Regions from separate parts of the Homo sapiens genome. Here region 2 is linked to region 1. Evidence: fine-mapped expression QTL. A gene starts in region 1. The other region holds a variant in brackets. All regions are shown on one strand. Distances are between the middles of the regions. Region 1 holds the start of CBLB (Cbl proto-oncogene B). Region 2 overlaps CBLB (Cbl proto-oncogene B).

The links. PIP is the estimated chance that this variant, and not a neighbour inherited with it, causes the effect.
Region 2: its variant is the best candidate, but not a certain one, in a credible set for the expression of CBLB in non-classical monocytes (Schmiedel 2018, PIP 0.81).

The regions. Positions count from the first base shown.
Region 1 is chr3:105,864,459-105,875,634 of GRCh38, forward strand. CBLB (Cbl proto-oncogene B) reads right to left here and starts at 4,554. Exons shown (of 19, transcript NM_170662.5): 1 at 4,278-4,554; 2 at 2,952-3,133. The coding sequence starts at 3,119. LOC105374024 (a long non-coding RNA gene) reads right to left here. Exons shown (of 3, transcript XR_007095990.1): 3 at 9,106-9,340. RefSeq lists enhancers at 2,426-2,475, 2,506-2,555, 2,676-2,765 and a silencer at 4,523-4,752.
Region 2 is chr3:105,763,661-105,771,660 of GRCh38, forward strand. All of the region lies in intron 4 of CBLB (Cbl proto-oncogene B), which reads right to left. Among named protein-coding and RNA genes, the nearest start is that of CBLB, 100 kb to the right of the region's middle. The variant T/C (reference allele first, on the strand shown) is at 3,051.

The DNA of each region.
Region 1 (11,176 bases):
TCTATCACTGTATCAAATAAGCATCCACTGATGTGAGGGCTTCTGGGTCGGCTATCAAATTACACATACACAGAGCTAAGGCCAGAAAATCTGTAATGGGATGTTTTGGGATATGCTACTATCTACTATTCTTTTCCTCAAAACATAGACTATGCTAACTCTGTGCTACTGATTTTCTGTTACAAAACACTCTACATCTTATAAGGAACACAACTGAGCAATTACGCTCTCCTATTCTCAGTGACCTTAGAGCAAAAGCCTGCCCTCTGAAAACAGAACATTAATTGGAAAGAATTTCAATTGACCATTTTAAATTCCAGAGGCCAAGAAATGGTAAAACTACATACTCACTAGATATTTCCCCTACAACCCAAGACTGCTTCATTATTCCCTGTAAAAATAGTTATTTTACTTTATTGGTAGCTGAAACACACTGAAATTGAAGCTTGTGTTCATATTTATACTTCCAAGATCTACCCTTGCAAAGAGGCTTCATAAGAAAAAAATATTAACTATACACTTAACTCTGCCTTTTACATACCTACCAATTAGACTTGAAAATTGCTATTTTCTGTTATTCACAAACTAAATTCATGCTATTGCAGTTATTTTTTTAAAAAGGTAATGTGTCAAGGGATTAACTTCAGAACTAATAATAAAGTTCCTGATGTAATCATCAGGACAATGTTGATATTATGAGCCACTTCCTTCACCACTAACAAATAAGAAAAGATAAACAAAAGAGGGGGATGTTTCTGTACTACACACTTATATACTGCCAATTAGTAATTATCAATGCCTTTCTATTTACTGTATCTTACAGTAAAAATAAACATACTGAATTCTTTCATAATAATTTATGCAATTTCTCTCCACAAAGCCCCTGGGTACATTCACAAATGAACACAACCATTTTCATCTTTGACAAATAATGAAGACAAACAGGCAATGTACATTTGCCAACACCCGCACCCACATCCCACTAAGTAGAGACTTTTGATAATAGATTTCCTTGTTGGGTCAAGTTTCTCAATTGGAGAGACTAAACCTAAACCCACAGAAGGGTTAATAAAATAAACAATAGCAGATGTTTAACTATCAAATAACCATCTATTTTACCATAACTCATGGTGAAATAATTAAAAGTGAATAAAACTTATGTTAACAACCAGTTACAGACCAAAATTGTGTACATCATTTTTAATGTTTCAAAAATAATGATTTTATAGTAACTATAGCTCACCACATCCTTATATAAATCTTTTTGATTTGATGTCCTAACACAAATGTACAAACACTGACCACTCAAAGTTGGAGGGTGGGGGAAAAAGAACAGCCCCTTTATAGAATCTGAACCATTTGCTGTCCACTTACGTAGCAGATAAGTTAGAGAAAAACCTTGAATTCCTTCTCTTACCCCAACTAATGATTTAGGCAGTGAGAGTGACCTTCAAATGCACACTCTTTAGCAAAGACAAGATAGGCAGCATTGTGCTTGACAAATATATGCTATTTTTCCAATTGAATAGTCCTTATTCTAAAGTATCCAATGCTAAAATCAAAACTGAACCCCAAGCAGCAAGTTGCAATATTCTGACACTATGACATCATTCTGTCTGGAGCACTTTAATATAACAATTTGAATAAATTGGCAGAAGCGTAAATAGGTCACACTGAAGCCCAAAACTAAGGCTATTTATCTGGCAAAAATATTCTGGCTCTGCATTTAGCACCATTGCCTGTAGAATGACAGGCCAGTCATTCATCTGTGTGTCCCTTCCATCAGAATAAATGAAAATAATGGAAATCTTGTCACATTCATATGTTGCTACTACTACTGATAGTGGCTTTTATAGCCAATATTTACAGACAGGAGCAAATCAAAGCAAAGATGAATGTTATCACATGATTTCATGGATGCTTTGGCACATCCTTACACAGAAATTTGTTTTTAAAACCTCCATTTCTTCAGTTATAAAGATACTGAGTCTTGCCTCAACTAAACTTATAATTGGCCCCAGATATCTATGAAATAAAGTCATAATGTGTTCCAAACATTTACTAATAAATCCAGGACAGTGCTACTGCTTCAAAAAAAAGAATTATTAATTTTTGCAAAGCAGCAAGCTACATCTTAAATTTATTTTATAATCATACTTAGTAAGGTAGGATACTGACAGCTACAGTTTCTGAGTAAATCTCTGTAAGGTATTCAGATTGACTTCTCTGGATACTGACACCCATCATGATTTCTTCTTGTGAAATTATAGTTTGTCTGAAAGCAACATGCAGAAACCACAGAGGTTTCTGATACTCTCAGCCTCACCACCCCCAACATAAATTTTCCTTTCACAATAAACAATGTGCCATCGAAAGGTTTCCTGTTTCAAAATGGAATAGTAGATGAAAGAAACTGTTAACTCTCCCATTAACAACAAAAAAAGTTTCTTAATGAAGATGAATTCTCAAAGATGAAAATGGAAACTCCCTCAACTACTGCTTCTTCACTTAAGAACTAATCTGTTTCTTTCCCCAGTAAATATTTTCAGTATCATACCAGATGATTGTCATGAGTGGTCAAAGACTTAAATAACCTGCTGGTACTCTTTTGTTATCTAAGAGCAACACAACCTCACAGAAGACAGAACAAACACTTCCAAGCATTCTATGGCCATACACCAACAAAAAGCAGCCAATGGTAAAACTTTACATACTGAGTCATGTAGAGGAACTCTGAACCTTAAAGAGTAGAAAGGATGAAAGGTTAAAAAACAAAAAAGTCTTTGAATCCAACTTTTCAAAAAACACAGAGTTGAAGAAAAATGATGAATTGAAATCAAAAGATTGTTGCCATAACAATGGTTGGTATTAATTAACAGTATAAATAAATCTGGAGAAACCACAGACAAAGTGAATAGTGTTTCGCACAGGCAACGTCAGACAGAACTTACCACTTTGTCCATGAGCTTCCAAGTCTTCTCCACGGTCCTGCGATCTGCGGCAGCTTGCTTAGGGGGTCCAACTGCATCCTGAATAGCATCAATAATACCCAAAATTCGACCTTTTCGGGGATTTCCTCCTCGACCACCAGGGTTTCTGCCATTCATTGAGTTTGCCATCTGGAATTTTAGTTCTTTAAAAGGCAGATTTAAAAAAAGAAAAGTTAGTTGGTTTTGAAAATATTTACCCACCAGAAAACTAGAGACTAACTTGTACCACTGCATCTTCCTCCATCGATTAGAGCAAAACCAAAAGTTCCGGATTCATCTTTATCAATAAGCTTGTGAATTTACACTCTCAATCTTTACACACAGTAGTTTTAAGAGCAGTGATCCTAGATTTGCTTTTACAATACTAAGAGTTAAAGATGCATCCTGCTCACGTTTCAAGTAGCTAAGGCTGAACTAATACTCAACTCATAAAAAAAAAAAAAAGAACAAACAAAACTTAAACAGGTTTCCCCCACCTAGATAAAAACAGAATGTTCTTCCCCTCCTGCCTTAATTCCAATTCAAAATACCAGAACAACTGAAGGTCCTATCATACATTTTGGGAGCCTTACGCAGAAACTTCACTTTCACTCTGTTAGATTTCTCCAAGTTACATAAACATAAAGATTATCCTACACAAACGTAAGGGACAGCTCTGTTGTCAACAAAAGCGCAGGGCATGTCCCACACTAAAACCACCAAGTACGGACACACGAACACCTTTCTTTAAATCAACGCGGTGAGTCGTTATTCCCAAGAACCAAATGAAATTAACACACAAATAGCCCATTTGAAAAGAGAAAAGAGAAAAATGACAAGAGCGGCCACGGAAAGGAGGAGTTCACTTCTCTGGCTCCTCGCCTCTGCCCTCAACCCAAAGCTTTGTTTCAGGACGCCTGTGTCCCTTCCCTGCTCAGGCCCCTTCCCGGCCCCTCGGGTCTGAGCTGCAGGAGGAAGGTGGACTGGGAGGGGACAAAGTGTCCCTCCCGTGCCCGCAGCACCGTCCGTCTAGGGCGCGGGAGGGACACTGTGGGCTCGGCGCCTGGGTGGACGCGCCTCCCGGCCGCCTGCTGCAGTCCTCACCGCCGTCTGCCTGGACGCCCTCTCCCTCCTCCCCGGCCTGCGGGTTCTGGTCTTTAAATGCCCCACTTCAAACTGGACGGCGGCGGCAAAGGCAGCTGAGAGCCAGGGCTGTCCCCTCTTCCTCCTTGGCCCGCGCCTGGCTACCCCGGGCCCCCGGGCCGGCAAGAAGTGTGGAGCCTCCCCGGCGACCCCTTCCCTTCTTGCCTTTCGGCGCCGTAGCTGTCCAGAGACACGCGTGTGCGCGGGTCCCACTCCACACGCACGCAGCCCAGTGTGTGTGGGGAGCCCCGGCTGGGAGTGGGATCGCTGAGAACAGCTCGCTCCCGAAGAAGGAGCAACCCAGCGCGCAGGCCTCCGAGACGTGGAAACGCAACAATTACCGTCAAGACAAATCCACACCCGCTCTCCCCTCCCGCCCGACTCGGGGAGGCCGCGGGACGCCGCAGCAGCACTAGCAGGAGGAGGAGACCGCTCGCTGGACACCCCACCCCTGTGGCACACACAGGACCCAGGCTCGGGGCGGGGCGGGGCGGGGGCGGGGCCGGGCGCCGCTGAGCCAATGCCGCGCAACCGCGCACTGCCCGACAGCGGGTGCAGCCAATGGACGGGAGGCGCCCGTCCTCCTCGCGCTGCCGCCCCGTCCACGTCCTCCACAGTACACAATGGCCCCAGAGGAAGGCCCGCTCGCAGCACGTCAGAAAGGAATTGGACTCGGAGAGAAATGAGGGGCCTGGACTCTCCCGGGAACGAAAGTGGAAACGGGAAAGGAAATGGACGAAGGGATGCAAGGCACGAAGGAGCTAACCAATAAGGGGTGGCAGGTGGGCGTGAGCGTCGGGACCGGGAGCCAAAGCCATCTGGGGCTGAAAGGCGGGACTTCCTGCTTCGCTTACCTTCCTAGTCTTTTGTTTCATAGCAACAGAGTAGTGGCTGGAAGGGTGTTGCTTCTCCGCTCTGGGCGGGTCCAACGCTGGAGAAATTCATCTCCCTAGGGCTGCCAAACCCTTCTACCCAGGACAGCAGCCAAACAGGTCTATGACGTTGCTTCTTGTTGGCTATCAAAAAGAGCAACAGCCACTGAGCTTCTAAAATGCAGAATAAATCTCACAGAGAGTAGGCTGGGGTGACATCTGAATGCCAACTGAAACTTCCCAAGTTTCCGAGTTTCTCTTTTGCTGTTAGTTTTAGAGGGATTGCAGACCAAACATCAGGCTGATGAAAAAGCAAATAGTTGACAACGCTGGCCAAACAGTCTCTGCTAATCATGCCAAAGCAATAAAAGTACCAGATAATGGGAATTGCTGATAAATACCTTGCACCTTTTTACTTAGTGCAAGTTTCTGCCTAAATGACTGAGGAGGAGACAGCTACTGTGTTTTGTCGGAGTCACCTTTACATAGATTTCTATCCATTTAAAAACAACCTTACTGTAGCTGCCATTCTCTACCAGCATTGTTACCTCTTTCTGTGGCTCCCTTCTTTGTGCTCTTAAAAAGGCCGACATCTGGCTAGTCTTTAAAGGAGAAAGCTACTGTGCTGGGACTTGTCTTTCAGCAATATCATAGGTTAAACAAATGCCTTCCATTTATTTCAGTTTACTTCAATCCCACCACTCATGCTACCAACAATTGCTCTGGACTTCATACTTTGGAACTTTCTTTCCACTACAGTTGATAGCGTTTATTACACTTTTCAGCTTGGACATCTCAGATGTTCTGATATTTTACATTGGGTTTTTTGTTTTTGATTTTGTTTTTTCAAATCTTGCTCTAACCACGTAACCTGATAAAATGTTTCTCAATGGTTCTAACCACTTTCTAGCAACTAAGAATTTTAATACTGTAATTATTACTATGAAGGATCCTGAGTTTTCCTTTACAGCCTTGAATTTACATGGTTAAGATTTTAATTTGACGAAAACAGAAAAAAAATGTGCCTTTGCAACCAGTCAGGTGATAAAGTGTGATTCAGGAAGTAATTTTGTTTCCTTGTCATTATTTCTGTGCCAGTAATTAAAGAGTAGTTCCTTGTTTTCACATTGCATTTATCTACAAAAGTGCTGGCCTCTCCATATCTCCTCCACCCATCCATATCTCTTTTACTCATAGTCGTAGTAGCTACATTTACTAAGGGGAGACTGTAAAAGAAAAAAACTGTGTTACCTTTAAAATAAATTTTAAAAGAATTAATGTGTAGAAGCATGTAGCAAAACAGTGGCTTAAGGGAACATTATAACTAAGTATATTACTTATATTCATATCTGGATAAATGTAAAATACCCAAAATACATGTTATAGCATGTGCCATTCCTTTTATATGGTGTTTTGCAACTGAAAGAGATGAGTTAATGAGAAAATGGCATTGCCTATGGTATCAAGCATATCATGTTGATATAAATTACAAGTTTTGAGGTGTATGGTTTGACGTATTTTGAAATATATGTATGTGAGATACGGTAGCATCCCTTACCACTTATTTGCCATCTCACTTTCCTTGGTTCTAGTTACCTGTGGACAACCAGGGTTTGAAAATAGGTGAGTATAGTACAAAAAGATATTTTGAGAGAGAGAAAAATACCACATTTATATAACTTGTATTACAGCATATTGTTATTATTTTATTAATAGTTATTGTTATTAATCTCTTACTGTGACTACTTCATAAACTTATCATAGGTATGTATGTATTGGAATACTCATAGTATATATAGCGTTCAGTATTTTCTGAGATTTCAAGCATGCACTGTGGGTTTGAGCATATCCTGTGGATGAAGGGAACTGCTGTATGTACATATGTACGCATGTGTGTGTGTGTGTGTGTGTGTGGTCAAGAAATTATAGCTTATCATCAACTAGCTATTTTATCAAGCAATCTGGAATCCAGGTTAAGTTCTGGTGTAGCAGGGTTCCCAGTTGAGCTGAAACTCGGATTCAGTTTGGTTTTCTCTCATAAACTGATGGAGCAGTAGAAGTCCTCCCTGCCAATTATTAGAAAAAGTAAATGTGCACGGGGAATAAATAACTGCTGGGATAAAACTTCAAACCCCGGGTGCCTCCAGTAGAGACACAAGAGATAAAGCACAATAAAAGATGCATGCTTCAGGACTATAAATAAGAAGACAAAGAAATGTTTCCATAAGAGATTTTAGGACATAAGCAGTAGTACTTCAAGCTGACAGAGTTGGCTAGAGAAACAGTCACCTCATTTCTATAGAACAAGTCAGTCCCCAGTAGGGTGCAGTTTAAAGTGAATGCAGCATCAGTTAGCAGTGTGGGAAATTGTAACCTAGAAAGAACATGTATATGGCCTTATTACGGGACAGCAGTGTTCTACTGGAAGATCCTGACATAAGACAGAATGGTGGCGCTCCTACATGAAGGATCTTGTAAGCACAAGGGTGGCTAGTAAGTGAGTAATGTGAGCAAACCGGTCATAAGGACATGTGAGACCCTTCCCCCAGGTCTCCCAGAAAAGAGGGGGAGACTTCGTGGCAAGAATACTTAAGAAATTATGTAGAAACAGCTGTGAACCCGTGTAATTTGAGCATTACTGTTTGACATTAATATATGTACCAATAGGCTGGTGCCATCTAGAAAAATGCGGCTTAAATTCCAGTCTGTAAACACAAGACATTAAGGAAAAAAAAGACAATTATTTGAGGAAAATATTTAGACTTTTGTCATTTGCTTTAATTTTTCTTTTCTTCTATTTTTTCCAAATTCACAACTGACCCCTGTGATATTGGACATGAGTTGACTAAATAACAAAGCCCCTCCATAACTTATGTAACCCATAATAGCTCAAAAATATTAATTGAATAAATGAATTGACTGTTTAAGAGTATTACATACAAAATATAATGCTGTTCCTGTTTCTGCACAATGGAGAATTCATTTAATTCACAATTCCAAGCAAGATTTTATTTTTACTATTAAGTAGATTTACAGTGACGATCCTAACACAAAAACAGAATACCACAACAGAAATTTCTAATTTCTCATAGAGAACACGGACCCAAATCTCAGGTTAGAGAGAAATAAGAGCAATATGACCTCGTAATATTTGGGCATAACAAGTTGTTCTTTGTTACGTGAAATAGAGTTCCATTCATCATTAACCCATTACATTTAATAGTTGGCATTGAGGGATGCTGATCCAGGGGCTCATCAGATATAACCAGACTCTGAGTCCTAGCTTGGGCTCAACTAGAATGCTAGCTTAACAACAACAGTATTAACAACAAAAATAACAATGACTTAAATAAGATAAATCTCTCACACATAGAAAAAGGTCTGAAAGTAGGAATTACAGGTAGATATGGTGGCTCCACAATTTTCTCAAGGACCCAAGTTCCTATCTTTATTCTGTACCATCCCAGCCTTGCTTCCCACCTTCAGAATCACGTCGTGTTCCAAGATGGCTATTGGCTCTCCAGCCATCACCACTGATTTTCAGGCTAAAAGCTAAGAGGAAAGGCAGGAGGGCAAATGGATCTTCCATCTGAGTTAGTTTCCTTTGACCAATCTTCAGAGAACTCTCACAAGTATCTCTCTTAAACAACTCAAGGCCAGAATTTAGTCCCATAGCCAAATTTAGCTGCAAAATCTGGAAGGCAATATGTTTTTTATTATGGGAAGCAATATAAAAATTCTAGTTTGTTTCTAAAGAGAAAGGGATGAATAGATGTTGTAGCAAGAAACTGGCGAGTCCTACCACAATAATACTCTAAAAGTTAAATATATTATTAATAATTCACTTCTTGAAGGAAAAACTGAAGATCCCAATGCAAGTGGTGTAAGATAATGATAATTTTGTATACTCATTTGAAATCCAGAACAATATGTGCATGCACACACACACACACACACACACACACACACGTAATCTTAACATCATTCCCTTAGCCATATTTATTAAAAGCTGCAACCATTTCTTTAGTGGGCAGAAACATGCATCTGCTATTACTAGACACATATATCCTTTAATGTCTATCATATGTAAGTATATATAGTAAATTATATACAATTCTCATTACAGCATGTGTGCTCAATAATCCTGAACAATCAATATCAGAGCGTACAATGGCAAAATTAAGCAAGAAACGTTCCTAATAGTTTTCCATCCCAAAGTTTACTTCAGATTAAACAGTTACATATCTGAAGAACAAATGAATGTCTTCACAATCACTTCTTTGTGATTTTCTTTCCCAGACAATTGATTCCCAAATCAATTCTTTTCCACACAATGATTTATTTGGTAGTTGTTCTCTGTAATAAAGACGATTTATACCAAAGCATTAAATATTGCTACTTGTAAACTTGGAGTAAACCTACTATTTTGTCTCAGTTCTATATTTTTTTCATGCCCCTCTCACGTTTCCTGTGTTTCCCTAAGAAGCCATGATTCAAAAAAAATGGACAATTTTCTTTTCCCTCAAGATTTTTGTGAAGAATGTAAAGTTAGAATTTGTTATAACAGTGTCTCTACAGTCCCCATGCATTTTGATTAATACCAAATAAATACAACACTGAATTTTTATTTTTATTTTTTAATTAACAATATAAATTCAGAAATTTTAAGGCTGAAGGGGATCTTGGTACTGATCACACCACTCAGTTTGCCAGATGAGGAAATTGGCAAATTTATCCAGGGTGATTGAACCCTAAAAGGTGTAGGTAATAAACCTAAATTCATGGATTATGTTATAGTGTAAAAACCATGTAATTACATGAAAAGTAACTGCTAATCAGAATAAAATTAACATAGACCAGTTATATGTTCATTTTTCTACTCAAGAAGGCATATTAAGATCCAAAACAAATATAGAAATCAGAAGAAAATGACCTACAGAAGTAACTCTAACAATGCCAGTAGAGATCTAATATATTGCAAATCTACAGAAAGTCTTCCCTATTGGTTTTCAAGTTCCTATTCTCAGTATAAAGGAAATGATCTTTTTCTATTTTAATTATCTTGTTTGTTTTAGGGGACAAAACTTATTAGGCACCTATCTTTATGTTATCAGCTAAAATTTCTGATTTCTTATTCACTCATCTATTTAATGTGCCTTTTTTAAAGTACCTAATATATTCCAAGCATTATGCTGGACATCAGGATGTACAAAGATGATTATGAACCAGTCATTGTTTCCAAAGAGAAAGGAACATAAAGAGATTATTATAAACTCAAGTGGTAAAAGCAGTAATTTCTATAGGCAGAGGTCATTATGAGAACTGAGGAAAGGCACTCAACCCAGCTTGGAGAAAGTAATTACTAAACCAAGACATATACGATAAATAGGATTAATAGTTAATCACAGGAGGATCATTCTAGTCAGAGGAGAGCTCATGAACAAAGCCATAAAAGAAAGAAAGCTGAGTATGAAGAGAGAATAAGAGGCCAGGTGTGGTGGCTCACGCCTGTAATCCCAGCACTTTGGGAGACTGAGGTGGGTGGATCACCTGAGGTCAGGAGTTCAAGACCAGCCTGGCCAACATGGCAAGACCCCGTCTCTACTAAAAATACAAAAATTAGCTGGGTGTGATGGTGGGTACCTGTAATCCCAGCTATTCGGGAGGCTGAGGCAGGAGTATCACTTGAACTCGGGGGGTGAAGGTTGCAGTGAGCCGAGATCACACCATTGCACTCCAGCCTGGATGACAAGAGTGAAACTGTGTCTCAAAAAAAAAAAAGAAGAGAGAATAGGAAAAAAGTCCATTTTGTGGGAAGCAGAGAACAGTAAACAAAAGGCAAAAAGTGGCAAGTGATGCATAAGTTAAAATATGGCTTCATGTGCCCAATTAAAGAGCTAGGATTTGATTTTTTTTTTCAAGGGAAGATACTGAAGGATTCTAAGCCAGGGGAGAGTGTATATAATAGAAACAGAAGAGGCAAGGGAGATGATTTTGTAACATTTCTATTTGAGAATGTTTACCCTAATGGCCGGGTTGATAATGGATCGGAGGGGGTAGGACTGAAGGCAGAGTGGCCATATATAGGAGATACCCATTAAGTGACGATGAGGACCTGAAATGGGGCAGAGGTAAAAAATAAGTGACATCTGAGAAAAGTGGTTTCCATTCCTCTCTGCACATTAGAAAAAC
Region 2 (8,000 bases), 100 kb before region 1:
TGAGAACAGACTAATATAAGTAAGTTTTATTTACTTTGCTATTAAGTCACACTTTCTCTACCAGCAGAACATGATCCTAAAAAACCAAAGAATGAGATTCTACTCTTCTTGCAAGCTAAGAAGTTGGCCTATCACAGTTTCATGTATAGTGGCAGAAGATACTGGGTTTCTGTCAAAGGACTGGGTCAGAGTCAAAGGACTTTGTTACTCACAGCAAGAGCAGTGGCTAGAGTACCAGCATTTTCTTGCCCTTGTTCCCTAAACACAAATTCTCCTAAAAGATGCAAAGAGGGCCAGGTGACATCTGCATACACTGTGGGTTTGATTCTGGAGTAGAACCTAGAACTTAAGGAACCCAAATATTTTGTAATGGATAATGCATATCCTTTGACCCAGGGAGAAATACTACCTCTATTTTACAAGGCTTTAAGATCCTTGCTCTAGAAGGAGACCTTCTCTCTCTTTATTGACCCAAGTAGACACATCCAGCAGAGAAGAGAACAAATGTTTAGAGGATTAAGACCAGGACCTCTATAAATCCAGGGGCACACACTATTAGTCCAGTGGTTCCAAATAGCTTTCAGATATTAAAAAATCAAATATCTGGGGACCAGGTATATAATATAAATTAGTAAAGATGTCCAGGAAAGGATTGTGATGAATTAGAAGAGAGATTATCTAAGAAAAACAGCTGGCACACAGGTCTAGCCAATTGCTGTCATATCACAATTCATATCTATTGTTGCCATCATTCCCAGTTTTTCAGTTTCAAAACAGTATTTTTTGTGTGAAACAAATAGTTTTTGGGCACTATGAACCATGCCCATGTAAGACAGCAAACTTAATGGTATATGTTCTCACTGCTCCACCAACACTGTTCTCTTTTCTCTCTCCCTCTCCTGGGGACTTTCTATTCCCTAAGACACAACAACACTGAAATTAGGCCAAATAGTAACCCTAAAATGACCTCAAGTGCTCAAGTGAAAGGAATAGTCACAAGTCTCTAATTATGGACATGATTAAGTTTAGTGAGAAAGGCATGTCTAAATCTGACATAGGACAAAAGTGAGGCCTCTTGCACCAAACAGTTAGGCAAGTTGTGAATGGAAAGGAGAAGTTCATGAAGGAAATTAGAAATGCTACTTCAGTGAACACATGAATGATAAGAAAGCAAAACAGCCTTACTGGTGATATGGAGAAAGTTTTGGTGGTTTGGTTAGATCAAACTAGCCACAATATTCTGTTAGGCCAAAGCCGAATCCAAAACAAGGCCCCAACTCGCTTCAATTCTGTGAAGGGTAAGAGAATTCAGGAAGCTTCAGAAGTAAAGTTTGAAACTAGCAGAAATTTGTTTATGGGGTTTAAGAAAAGAAGCTCTCTCTAACATAAAAGTGCAAGGTGAAGCACCAAGTGCTGATGTAGAAGCAACAAGTTATACAGAAGATCTAGCTAAGATCATTGATGAATGTGGCTACACAAAACAACAGATAATTAATGTAGATGAAACAGCCTTAAGATGAAAGAAAATGCTATCTAGAAAATGCTAGGGCTAGGGAGAAGTCAATACCTAGCTTCAAAGCTACATGATGGGTTCAATCATACCCCAAACCTCAGCATCATGCAATATGCAATTACTTGCATATGTACCCCCTAAATAACCTCCAAAATAAAGGTTGAAAAAGAAAAAACAAAAGCCCCCTGATAGTTGCTCACTCTTTCTACCATGTGAGGATATTGCAAAAAGATGTTTGGCCATCTGTAAATTAGGAAGTGGGTCCTTACCAGACAATTTGTCAGCACCTTGATCTTGGACTTCCTAGCCTTCAGAACTATGAGAAATAAATTTCTGTTCTTTATTTAAAAAAACAAAAAGCTTCAAAGGACAGGCTGACTCTTGTTAGTGGCCAATAAAAGTGATGACTTTAAGTTGAACACAATGTTCATTCACCATTCCAAAAATCCTAGGTCCTTTAAGAATTACGCTAAATCTACTCTTCCTGTGCTCTACAAATGGAACAAAAAACCTGGATTACTGAATATTTTAAGCCTACTGTTGAGATATGCTGTGTAGAGAAAACAATTCCTTTCAAAATAGTACTGCTCATTGGCAATGCCCCTGATCACCCAAAAGATTTGATGGAGATGTACGAGGAGATTAATGTTGTTTTCATGTCTTCTAACACAGTACTCATTCTGCAGCCCATGAATCAAGGAGCCATTTTGACTTTCAAGTCTTATTATTTAAGAAATACATTTCCTACGGCTATAGCTGTCATATATTGTGATAGCTCTGGGCAAAGAAAATTCAAAACCTCGTGGAAAGGATTCACCTTTCTAATGCCACTAAGAACATTTATGATTCAAGGGAGGAGGTCAAAATATCAACATTAACAGGAGTTTGGAAACAGTGAATTCCAAATCTCATGGATGACTCTGAGGATTTCAAGACTTCAGTGGAAGAAGTAACTGTAGATGTAGAATTTGCTAGAGAACTAGAATTAGAAGTAGAACCTAAATATGTGGCTAAATTGATGCAAATCTCATAAAATTTGAACAGACGAAAACTGCTTCTTATAGAAAAGCAAAAAAGTGCTTTCTTAAATGTAATTTACTCCAGGTGAAGATGCTGTGAACACTGCTGATATTACAATAAAGGATTTAGAATATTGCAGACACTTGGTTGATAAAGCAGTGGCAGGGTTTGAGAGGACTGACTCCAATTTTGAATGAAACTCTATTGTGAGTAAAATATTATCAAACAGCATTGCATGTTATAGATAAATATTACATGAAAGGAAGAACCAATTGATGTAGTAAACTTCACTGCTGCCTAATTTTAAGAAATTGCCACAGCCACCTTAACTTTCAGCATATGATCAGTCAATAGCCATGAACATCGAGGCACAACTCTCCAGCAGCTAAAAGATTACAACTCACTGAAGGCTCAGCTGATTGTTAGCATTTTTTAGCAATTCTTTTTTAGTTAAGGTACATATATTTTTTTAGACATAATGCTACTGCACACCTAACAGACTACAGTATAGTATAAA[T/C]ACAACTTCTATATTCACTAGGAAGACAAAAATAATCTAAGTGACTTGCTTTATTGCAATATGCACTTCATTGCGATGTACTTTATTGCAGTGGTCCCAAACTAAACCCACAATATCTCTGAGGTATGCATGTACTAGTAAATTAATTTATTATTTGTGATATTCTTTATGTGATTTTCTAATGGTACAGAGCTGATTTTAAGTATTTATCTTCTTTTTATATCCTGTCTTCCCCAAACTGAATATTGCTTACAGGTAGAAAATTACAATTGGCATCTTAGTTGTTTTGTATCTTGTTACAATGAATTGAACAAAATAGGCCTCCAATAGATATGTAAGTTTTTATTTTCCTTATTGACATAAAGATACCTGAAATTTTTTTTAACAGGCAACAAAGGGAGGTAGCTAACTAGTAGAAATATTAACTAGTGATTCTTTGAATCCTACTTTAGTTCTTTTTTCTTTCTCTTTAGAGTATCTGCTAAAAATTTTCATTGTAAAAACTCTTAATTTCTACTGTGTACCACTTCTTTTAATTTAATATAATTAGGTTGTGTTTTCTTTACCTAGAGGGAAAACTGAGCTAGTTAATATGCTAGAAGAATATATATCTCACTCGCTGGAAAGGTAAAGAAAGTATTTTCCTTTCTTTCATATTAAAAGTGAAAGGAAAATACGGGAAACCAAAGAAGGCCCTTATTGCTTTTGCAGGAAATCAATCATAGAGGCAATAAATTGAGCTATAAATAAACCATTTTCCCCCTGTGGTAACCAAGACAGTTTCTTATTTTCAATTCTACCTTCATCTCGGGATACACATAAAATAATTTTTAAAATTTTTCTTTTTCTTTCTTTTTTTTTTTTTGCTTTTAGATTGCTACAGAGTATGAAACTTCCATCATACAAAGTCAAATGTAAATTACATTATTTAGAGAATTTGGACCACTTTTAAAGGTTTCAATTGGTTAATTATTCCACAAAATAGAATATTTATTATATGCTAGACACAGTTTTATGTGCCTTACAGGTAAGGTTTAGCTATTTTAAGCCGTCATAACAACCATTGATGGTAGGTATTATTAGTATCATCTACATTTTATAAATGAGGAAAAAGATGCATAGAAAAACCAACTAGATTCCCCAAAGTCACAAAGTGAGTAAATGTTGCAGTCAGAACCTGTCCAGGGACAGATAATCTGGCTGCAGAGCCTGCATGCCAAACCCTAAGTATGCTGTCTCCCAATCAATCAAGCAAGCAGGCTCCATCTCACACATACACATGCTAATGCACATTCCTCTACTTCTCAACTCATCTGAATTAAATGTACAATGGTTCCTGAAAGCCTGTATATAAAACATTGTGCTGAGCTACTTTAGAAATACAAAGATGAATAAATAAGCTTGATTTCATGGAGCATATAGTCTAGGGGGAAGTATGACAACTAGACAAATACTTGTAATAAAACCATAAAAATAGTAAATGCAGAAGATAAGCCAGAGCTTAGCGAAGTTTAAGAAGAGATCTAGTAATAACACTAATGGGAAAAATTATGAGCAATATTATCTTTGAGGGATTAGTAAGAATTGTTATGCCAGAGATTATAAAAATCTTCAAGTAGAAGGAGCAATATAAGCAAAGACATAGAAACCTATAATTGCTGATGTGTCCAGAAAGAGCCAAATAAGCCAATTTGACTGAAGAACAGAACATAAGTAAAGGAAGAGAGAGCTTAAATGGCAGAAAAGTTGCATCCTATACTCATACATTCAACTAATAACTACTAAATGTCTACAATGTATATGGTACGTAAAAGACTCATTCAACAACCATTTACAAAGTAGTTTAAAGATTATATTGAAAATGAGGCTAGCATATGTGAAAGCACTGAACACAAAATCTGACATACAATAACTCTAATAAATGTGTCTGTTTTCACCAACTTTTGCATAGAAAGTCATTGAAGACTCTTGCAATCAAGCAAGAAAGACCTACATAGTAAACACATTTTACAATATAAATGTGTCTAAAATACAACAGCAACCAAAGTATAGAGTAATTAACATAGATCACGTAGAAGGGTGTATATGAATGAGAAAAACTCAGAAAAGTGGACTTATGAACTGAACTTAAAGAAAGGTGTCAAAATTCTGAGACAGATGAAAAGAAAGAGGGAAGAGAGGCATCTAAGGAATAGAAATGTAGGAACTGATCATTTAAAAAGAGATCAATTTATATATAATGAAGTCATTGGAAATTGAGAGTAGAGGATAGACATCGTCCATCTATGCAATTATTCATGTAGTCTGTTAACAATTATTGCCGCCGGGCGTGATGGCTCATGCCTATAATCCCAGCACTTTGGGAGGCTGAGACAGGTGGATCACCTGAGGTCAGGAGTTTGAGACCAGCCTGGCCAACATGGAGAAACTCCACGTCTACTAAACATACAAAAAAAACATTGCCGGGCGTGGTGGTGCATGCCTGTAATCCCAGCTACTTGGGAGGCTGAGGAGGGAGAATCGCTTGAACCCAGGAGGCAGAGGTTGCAGTGAGCCGAGATGGCGCCATTGCACTCTAGCCTGGGCAACAAGAGCAAAACTCCACCTAAAAAAAAAAAATTATTATTGCCTAAACATTCCAGGAAACGTGTCAGGCTCAAAAACACAAAAATAAGTAAGATGCAGTCTCTGCTTCCAAATAAACTTTCCAGTCTATTGGAAACCTCTCAATTGAGAAATGGGGGCATGTCAGCAGTTCACTGTAATATATTTTGACAGATGTGAGCTCAGGTACCTGGCAGCACAGAGTAGGGATATCCATTAGGGTACTAAAGTAAAGCTTTCAAAGTGGCAACACTGGATAGAGCATGGGTGACTGCCTATCCAAGCAGTGAATGCAACATACGAAAACAAAGACAATGAGGAGTAAAAAATGAGACACACATTGGGAAATATGAACAGTATTGAGTTGTTTCTTTGCAGATGAGTTAAGTATACCGAAATGATAAGTAGAAAAAAAGAAGCCAGCGAAAAAGTTTCTAAAGCTTGTGATGTTTAATGTGATTTTAGACTTTAACCTAGAATTAATATTCATGCAAACACTTCAAGCGAAAGACTGGAATGATTAGCTCTGCTTTTTAGACAGCTCACTGGTCCCCTAAGAACAATAGGATAGGTTGTTATTGGAGATAGGGAGACTAATCAGAAGGTTGTTGGGGTAATGCAGAGCATGAATTTAAATTTGAAGAAGAGAATTTTATGTATGGAGAGGAGAGGCTATGTAAGAAGATTCAAGAGTTAGAATCTGTGTTTCTAATTGAATTATAATTTGTTTGGAAATTTATGTCTAAATCTTCTCAATGCTAATTTTTGTTTTTTTTTTTTTTTCAAGATGGCAGACTGGAGGCAGTGTCAGCATGCTTCTCCCACTTGGAAGGACAGAATAATGTGCAGAGATTCAGTGTGAATTTTTTCCCAAAGAACCAACACAGGAACTTAGGAAAACAGAATCCACAGACCCTGTGAAAGAATTGGGAGGCTATAGCCTACTACGTGAGACAGGTGAAAAACTCCTAAGTCCTCAGAGTGCGAGAGGGGAAGAGTCTGCCTCCAAGTACACATCCCCACCAGGGAATCTGAAAATCCAGGCCACTGGAGAAGCCCTTCACCCTTCCAATAGCTGGAACAGATTTAGGGAAATAAAAAAGTAGGAGCCGCAGCAGGACTTCCCAATCTCCAGCATGAACCCAGGGAAGCTATTCCTGAATATATCTCACAGGGACCCTCTGGAAGTCAGCCAATGAGCTCAGGGAAAGGACACAGGGTGAAAGAACCTCCCAACTGAATTTTGTAATATAATCTCGAGTGGAACAAATTCCCTTGAACAGAATGGGGAGGGAGGAGTTGCGGCAAGTGGGAAGTGTGCTGCAGACAGGAGCATAGGAGCTGGGTGCCTGGCCATGCCTGGGAAGACGAAGAGGGGCATGGCTTTTTGAAAGCCATGGCAGCTTTCTATGTGGAGAAGCTTATGACCTGGGGCAGGTCTGAGTTCTGTCTATAGACTACCTGGATCTAAACCAAGCATTGTTAGCAGAGCACTGTGGGAGTGAGATCAGCCTCACCAACTGCAGGAGAGCTGGGTAAGGTTTACTGCCACCCAATAACAATAACAAGCAGTGAGACTGAATCAGTAATTTTAAAAATGCAAACAGAGAAAGTCCAGGACAAGATAGATTCACAACTGAATTCTACCAGACATTCAAAGACAAATTGGTACTAATCCTACTGAAACTGTTCTAAAAGACAGAGAAAGAGGGAATCCTCCGTAAATCATTCTATGAAGCCACTACCATGCTAATATCAAAACCAGGAAAAGACATAACAACAACAAACTACAGACCAATATCTCTGATGAACATAGATGCAAAAATCCTCAACAAAATACTAGCTAACTAATCCAACAGCACAACAAAAAACTAATACATCACAATCAAGTGGGTTTCAGAGATACAAGGACAGTTTAACATATGTAAGTTAATAAATGTGACACATCACATAAACAGAAATTTTAAAAATATATATAATCATCTCAATAGACCCAGAAATAGCATTTGATAACATACAGCACCCCTTTATAATCCCTCAACAAAATATGTATAGAAGAGATTTACCCGAAAGTAATAAAAGCCATATATGTCAAATCTATAGCTAACATCATACTGAATGGCAAAAAGTTGAAAGCATTCCCCCTGAGAATTGTAACCAGATAAAGATCCCCACCTTCACCACTTCTATTCAACCCAGTACTGGAAGTCACAGCCAGAGCAATCCAATAAAAAAAAAGAAAGAAGAAGCATCCAAATTGGAAAAGAGGAAGTCGAACTGTCATCATTCACTGATGATATGATCATATACCTAGAAAAGCCTCAAGATTCATCCAAAAAGCTCCCA